Linked DNA regions of Homo sapiens. The protein of the gene in region 1 purifies or fractionates together with the protein of each later gene. This does not show direct contact. Each region holds a gene or a part of one and is shown in the gene's direction. Other genes may lie near its edges.

Region 1 (3,500 bases):
CAGCATATTTGTTCAGGAAACATTTGTAGGATGAATGGATGGGTGACTGTATGCATGGATGATGGATCCCACTTTTTTCTTAAAAGTTGGGTGGGAGTAGAGGCCCAGCATTTCGGACTGATTGCCTGGAACAGGAACAACCCCTGTCTCTTCTCAGCTTCCTGTTTACCTGGCAGTCTGACCATTATGGAAAGCTGGAGGGGTGTGGGTGGGAAACACAATTGTTTCCTCCAGTCTTTTTTTGTAGCTCCCTCTTTTGAGGGGGATGGATCATCACACTAACTTCTCTGGTGGCCAGAAAGGGCGGGCACAGATGTGGCTGCCATTGTTAGCTCCTGGGCTCTGAGCACTACTAGGGAGGTGCCCATCTTTTCCTCAGGTTAGAGCATAGCATGGCAGAATTCAGGATTATGAGATGTTTCCAAACTTCTGCTTGCGGAAGTGATATTGCTACTCTGGAAAGGAAATAAAGTTATACAGTGTTCACTTTGATACAGTCTCCAACCTCTTGTAACAAGTTCAGCCAGCTCTGGGAGAACAAAGAGCCCGGAGATGTTAGCATGTGGGAAAGAGACTGTGCAGAGAAAGAACACACAACATTGCTGCCCTCTCTCCCAGGGTCTCTGAAGCACTTCAAGTGAGTGGGATAATAAGGAACTTAAATAGCTCAAGAGCAAAAAAATCTAATAACTGGATTGAAAAATGAGCAAAAGACATTAATAGGCATTTTTCAGAAGAAGACATACAGATGGCTAACAGGTACATCAAACATGCCCAGCATCACTAATCATCAGGGAAAGGCACATCAAAACCACAAGGAAATACCGCACTCCAGTTAGAATGGCTATTACTTGTTTATTTAATTAATGTTTTTCTTAGAATGGCTATTATTGAAAAGACAAAGGAAAAACGTGTTGGTGAGGATATGCAGAAAAGGGAACACTCACACTTGGTAGGATTGTAAGTTAATATTGCCACTATGGAGGACAGTATGGAGGGTCTTCAAAAAACTGAAAATGTAGCTGCTGCATGATCCTGCCGTCCCGCTACTGGGTATATATTCGAAGGAAATGAAATCAGTATGTTGAAGAGATACCTGCGTTCCTGTATTTATTGCATCACTATTTACAATAGCCAAGATACGGAATCGACCTAAGTGTCCAACAAGAGATAAATAAGGAAAATGTGAGATATATACAACAGAACACTATTCAACTATACGAAAGAATGAAATCCTATCATTTGCGACAACATGGTCTTGAACTCTTGACCTCAAGCCATCCTCCTGCCTCGGCCTCGGCCTCGGCCTCTCAAAGCACTGGGATTACAGGTGTGAGCCACCGTGCCTGGCGCATTTGCAACAACATGGATGAACCTGGAAGAGGACATCGTGTTAAGTGAAATAAGCCAGGCACAGAAAGACAAATACTGCATGATCCCACTTATATGTGTAATCTTAAAAAGTTGGTATTATAAAAGCAGAGAGTAGAACAGTGGTTACCAGGATGGGAGAAGATGGATAGGGAGAGGTTGGTCAACAGGTACAGAGTTACAGTTAGATAGGAGAAGTAAGTTCTGCTGTTTTCTTGCACAGTAGGGTGACTGTGGTGGTACCGTGTATTACAGAATAGCTATGAGAATGAGAAGCCTTTGAATGTTCTCACCACAAAGAAATGATAATTGCATGAGGTAATGGATATGCTAACTACCCGAATTGGATAATTATGTAACATATATGAGTATTGAAACATCAAATTGTATCCCATAAATATGTACAATTACAGTGTGATAATTAAAAAATAGTGAGTGGAATAAACATTACTCTAAATAACAAATATCACCACCCAGCTGTGTCCTCTGAAGGATTTGATTTTTCAGGGTTTTATTGCGTGTATTCCTGTATAATCTTGCAATTCTTCTCTTAAATTGGCTGACAATTTAAAAGTTGTAATTTGAATTGATGTTTTCTGCTTTGCAACATGGTTACCTTAAGTCCCTGTTCCTGTCATTGCATTTGTAGTAGTGATGGGCTGATTACCTAAACAGTTAGGGTGAAGGGAGGAAGTATGGTATAGTGAAAAATAGTGTAAAATACAACCTTTGGAGTCAAGGTAAGTAAGTCTGTTCATTAAGAATCTGGACTGAGAGGCTTTGAGTTAGTTTATCCAGTTTCTTTGAGCCTTAGTTATAACTCAGCCTTAAGAAAGGGACAATAATGAATCTTACTTCGGAGGGTTAGAGACTGTTTTCTACAGCAGCGGTACCATTTTTCATTCCCATCAGCAATGCATAATGGTTATGATTAAAATAAGGCTTAGAATTAATAAACAGTATACATCAAGGGCTTAATTGTGCTTGGCACCTGGTAGGTTTGACAGAAGAAAAGCAAAGTACAATTTAAAAAAACTGAATAATGGCTTCTGAGAATAAAGGTGTAAAAACATTTGCATTGTAGTGAAGGACATAAGAAACATTCACTTATCTATTAGTGCAGTATTTAATATGTGTAATTAAAAGATGAAATATTTAAACAACAGCTTGGGTTAAGAATTGCTCAGGAGAAAGGTGTTTTTATAGGATTTGGGCACACGGCTCCTCTCACCACATTAAATCGTAGTGAGTAAAGGGAGCTTCACCTTGTTTCAAATGTTGAGTGTGAGTGCTCATGCTGTGCCTCCAGTGAATCACCTACTGCCTTTGGAAGAGTGTCCTAATGACTGGGGGAGGTGAAACTGACAGGCTAAGGATTCATGTGGGGTTACAAGGCTTGCTCAGAAGGACTCTTATCAGAAGGTTGGAAACTGATGAAGTCCAGCATGGATGTTGCATTTCTTGGCTAGTCTGTCTGAGGTTGGCTGGAGTCCTGCTCATATAGCTGAGTTTGTTGGTGAATTTTGTCTCCTCCAACAGTGAAAGTCTTTGACTTAACAGGGCAGCCTGTTGCATTCTATAGAAGTCCCAGATGTTGGCTCCAGAGTCTTACATGCTTTGGTATTTTTTCTTAAAAGCATAATAGGGAAGAAACCACAAGTAAAGGAAGTAGTTTGATTTTAGGATCATACATCTGAAAAATTAAGTTAAATAACTGATATATCTTTAGGGGCTGATAATCTATTAATAAAAGCCTTGAGGTTTCCAAGAGTTGCATTTAGTGAGAGCATAATAAGGGCAATGTATTTGTAATGAGATAATCAAACAAGGCACGGACTGTGTCACTCCAGGAGATAATATAAGGTACAAATTGTGCAGGTGGTGGGATACTGGAGGGTGGCCTTTTCCACCTAATTGGAACTCCTTAGGAAGAGCTGACAATTATTGAGAGGCTGGTAGCTTGTAAAGAATTCATTTACTAGAAGTGAAGGCAGAAGGATTTTATGATCTTGACTCCACATTTTAGGTGGCACTGGATAAAGGAGGAATTTATTTATTTTTATTTTTATTTTTGGAGACAGAGTCTCGCTCTGTTGCCCAGGCTGGAGTGCAGTGGCGTGATCTTGGCT
Region 2 (4,033 bases), on another chromosome or scaffold:
TATAAGGAGTTTTTAGTCTAATTTATATCTAGAATACTTGTGAATATTTCAAAGTTAATATTCAGATATTAATAGGAAATCGGAATAATATGCCTTGTTTGTGTTTGCGATGTTGCTATGCTTAATGATGACATATGATCACAATTTCAACATGATGTACTTGTTCAGGGATGTCTCAAAGAGAGTTGGGTTCAACGTTTGTCTGTGAGTCCTTTCAAAGGCCAAAGCTGAACAATGAATTTTTGGCCTCACACTAAGATTAGAGCCAAGGCTGGGTGTGGTGGCTCATGCTTGCAGTCCCAGCCCTTTGGGGAGTCCAACTCAGAAGGACTGCTTGAGGCCAGGAGTTCAAGATCAGCCTGGGAAACAGTGAGATCTGGTGTCTAGTCTCTACAAAAAATTTTAATTAGCTGGGCATGGTGATGTGCACCTGTAGTCCTAGCTATTCTGGAGACTGAGGCAGGAGCATCTCTTGACCCCAGGAGTTTGAGGCTGCAGTGAGCTATGATTGTGCCACTGCACTCCAGCCTGGGTGATATAGCACGACTCTGTCTCTAAACAAAAAACAAAACAAAACGAAGACTGAAGCCAAACTTGACTTTATCTTTATTTACTATAAATGCTAATTTTGAATCATGGTGTTAATTTATTTCACACGTCAACATGGTCCCTTGTTCTTTTGAAACTACACTGGCTTCTATCTTGTTTCAGTTATATGGCGCTACTTTCATGACACCCTACTGCGAAAGTATGCTGAAGAAAGAAATGGTGTCAATGTCGTCAGTGGTCCTGTGTTTGACTTTGATTATGATGGACGTTGTGATTCCTTAGAGAATCTGAGGCAGTAAGAACATATTTCATTACTCTTAAAAATAGGAATTACCATCCAGTAGAAATGGGATTACCATCCAGTTGAGTCAACAGAACCTTTTTTATCCAGTGTCGTATGTTTATGTGTATGACACTTCTGACTACACAGGAAGCCTCTTGAAATATCTGATTAATTTTGATGTTTTGCTCAATGTTCAGTAAAATATTTTTAGGTAAAAAAGTAGTGTTTCTCACCCATTCAGTTCAGTTGAATAATTTTTGCACTCAGTTTAAATGCTGAACTCATTTAAGATCTCTGTGTGGCTGATTGTTAAGATATGATCTTAATATATTGTGAGTCAGAAGATGAAGAACTCTATGGTGTGGCTACAGATATCCTGAGTCTAGGAATGAATAGGGTTATAAAGCTGCAGTGCTTGGAGTCTGGTGGCCTTGGGTGAATGTTATGGCTTTTACCCAACTGTGGCTGGAGGGGCATGATAAAAAGCAACCGTCTGAAGGAAACCATCAGTGGTGCTTTTTTAAAAAAGAGAGGGAAAGAACATCTTGGAAACTGGTTGATCTTTATTGAAACAATAATTACAGCAGTTTGGGAAGCAATTTTGCTGTTAAGTCCGTAGGAAAAAGACTGAGATTCCACTGAGATTCAGCCCCTCTCAGAACTTTCCTACTCTCCCAGGCTGACTTAGATATATGTGACTTACAAAATACATCAGAAAGCACATCAATTTGCAAAGTTACAGTTTTTTACTTTCCCTTGAGGCATAAAGCTGCCTTAGAAGCTGTAGCACTGGAGAGGATACAGAAGAGAACTGCATATGCTTCCTACCCACGGCTTCACCCAGAGCCCTCTGTTTAAATCTGTTTTATAGATTATGTTTCTACATAAGGTCATATTTGAAAACAATGATTCCACTGCCTTAAATTTTGAAAGATGTTGAAAAAACAAACACAGCCTTAAAATAGGAGAATGACTATGAGGTAAAGATGTTTGGGACATCTTTGATAATATACTTCAGTTTAAAAAATTAAGTTATTAAGGAAGAAAATCCAGTTAGAACAAACAATTCATGACAACATGTCCTCTCTGAAGGGGCTGGAATAGAAAATTCCTAACCAGTTCTTTCTCTGCCCACTATTTGTCTATAATCGCCTAGAAGTTAAGACTATCAATAATGGTTTACACTCTTGGTCATAGGTGTTCAAAAATGACATTTTCTTTTCTTTAGTGTTTCAATTTCAATGTCTTTAGGTAGAACTAAAAGAATTCTAAAAGTCAATAAACTTCTACAGAAAATAAAAATTATTTGGAGTGTGTTTATCTGCCTGTCTTCTAATTATTGCTCTCAATCTGGCAGAGTATGTTGAGGTATTGTGATTACTAGCTTCTTATATTTAATTATTTGTTTGAATTTGATTTTTATATGTATTAAAAGCATGCTCTACTGAAATATTCATCAAAAGGAAGATAGTTATTTCTTTCTTAAAATGAATATTGGCATGTTTTACAGAAAAAGAAGAGTCATCCGTAACCAAGAAATTTTGATTCCAACTCACTTCTTTATTGTGCTAACAAGCTGTAAAGATACATCTCAGACGCCTTTGCACTGTGAAAACCTAGACACCTTAGCTTTCATTTTGCCTCACAGGACTGATAACAGCGAGAGCTGTGTGGTAAGTAGCTTTTGTATATTTACTTTGCATGTTGAAAATCTAGACATATGCATATTTGTTTATGTCACCCATCTGACATTACAGTGAGAGAAAGCACAACTGAGTACACATGGACTTCGAAATTATAGGATGCTTTTAAATTTGATCTTTTAAGATGACATATCTTTGGGGAAGACTACCCTTGTCTGCTTTTACTTTTTTCTTTTTTTTTTTTTTTTTTTTAGAGATAGGGTCTTTCTATGTTGCCCAGGCTGGTCTTGAACTCCTGGCCTCTTATGATCCTCCTGTCTTGGCCTCCCAAAGTGCTGAGATTGCAGGTGTGAGCCACCCTGCCTGGCCCCTTTGTCTGGTAAAGATACTAAAAATCAGATCAGAATCAAACTTTGTATGGCTTAACCACTAAAGTCTAGGTTTATCTGAGGTATGGATTTTCTCTTTTTTTAAAACTGGATGTATAATTTCAAAGTGTCAGCACTGTTATAAATTAAAGTTGTTAGACAACATTTCAAATTTTCTGTGTATCACTTAATTATAAAAAATCTTTTCCTTTCTTATCGTATTGTCATCCCAGTGTGTTTGGGAATAATTGTTTTATATTATCTTATTTGCTCAGAATTTTAAAAATCTACATTGTAGATTGGGACATCAAGACTGCATAACATTTTAGCAATTTTTTTTTTTTTTTTGAGACAGAGTCTCACTTTGGCTCCCAGGCTGGAGTGCAGTGGCATGATCTCGGCTCACCGCAAGCTCCGCCTTCTGGGTTCACACCATTCTCCTGCCTCAGCCTCCCGAGTAGCTGGGACTACAGGCGCCCGCCACCACACCCAGCTAATTTTTTTTTTTTTTTTTGAGACAGAGTCTCACTTTGGCTTCCAGGCTGGAGTGCAGTGGCATGATCTCGGCTCACTGCAAGCTCCGCCTTCTGGGCTCACGCCATTCTCCTGCCTCAGCCTCCCGAGTAGCTGGGACTACAGGCGCCCGCCACCACACCCGGCTAATTTTTTTTTTTTTTTTTTTTTAGTAGAGATGGGGTTTCACCGTGTTAGCCAGGATGGTCTCAATCTCCTGACCTTGTGATCCACCCGCCTTGTCCTTCCAAAATGCTGGGATTACAGGCGTGAGCCACCGTGCCTGGCCTTTTTTTTTTTTTTTTTTTGGAGTCTTGCTCTGTCACCCAGGCTGGAAGGCAGTGGCGTGATCTCGGCTCCCTGCAACCTCCGCTTCCCGGGCTCAAGCGATTCTCCTGCCTCAGCCTCCCGAATAGCTGGGATTACAGGCACCTGCCACCCATGCCCAGCTAATTTTTGTATTTTTAGTGGAGATGGGGTTTCGCCGTGTTGGCCAGGCTGTTCTCTACCTCCTGACCTCAGGTGATCTGCTGGCCTTAGCCTCCCAAAGTGCGGGGGTTACAGTCATGAGCCACTGTGCCCGGCCCATTTTAGCAATTTTTAAGTTTTCTCTTATGGTGAGCCAAAATATATTTCTTTCAGAGTACTTCCTACATTTCCTTTTTTTTTTTTTTTCA

What was found.
Region 2: the proteins of TBC1D8 (region 1) and ENPP1 purify together in Homo sapiens (affinity purification with mass spectrometry; one large-scale study listed by BioGRID and IntAct). This does not show direct contact.

What each region holds. Positions count from the first base shown.
Region 1 is NC_000002.12:101,144,883-101,148,382, reverse strand, and holds part of TBC1D8 (TBC1 domain family member 8), read left to right. Parts: intron 1-3,500. UniProt on the Homo sapiens protein: May act as a GTPase-activating protein for Rab family protein(s).
Region 2 is NC_000006.12:131,884,220-131,888,252, forward strand, and holds part of ENPP1 (ectonucleotide pyrophosphatase/phosphodiesterase family member 1), read left to right. Parts: intron 1-711; coding exon 712-844; intron 845-2,342; coding exon 2,343-2,505; intron 2,506-4,033. UniProt on the Homo sapiens protein: Nucleotide pyrophosphatase that generates diphosphate (PPi) and functions in bone mineralization and soft tissue calcification by regulating pyrophosphate levels.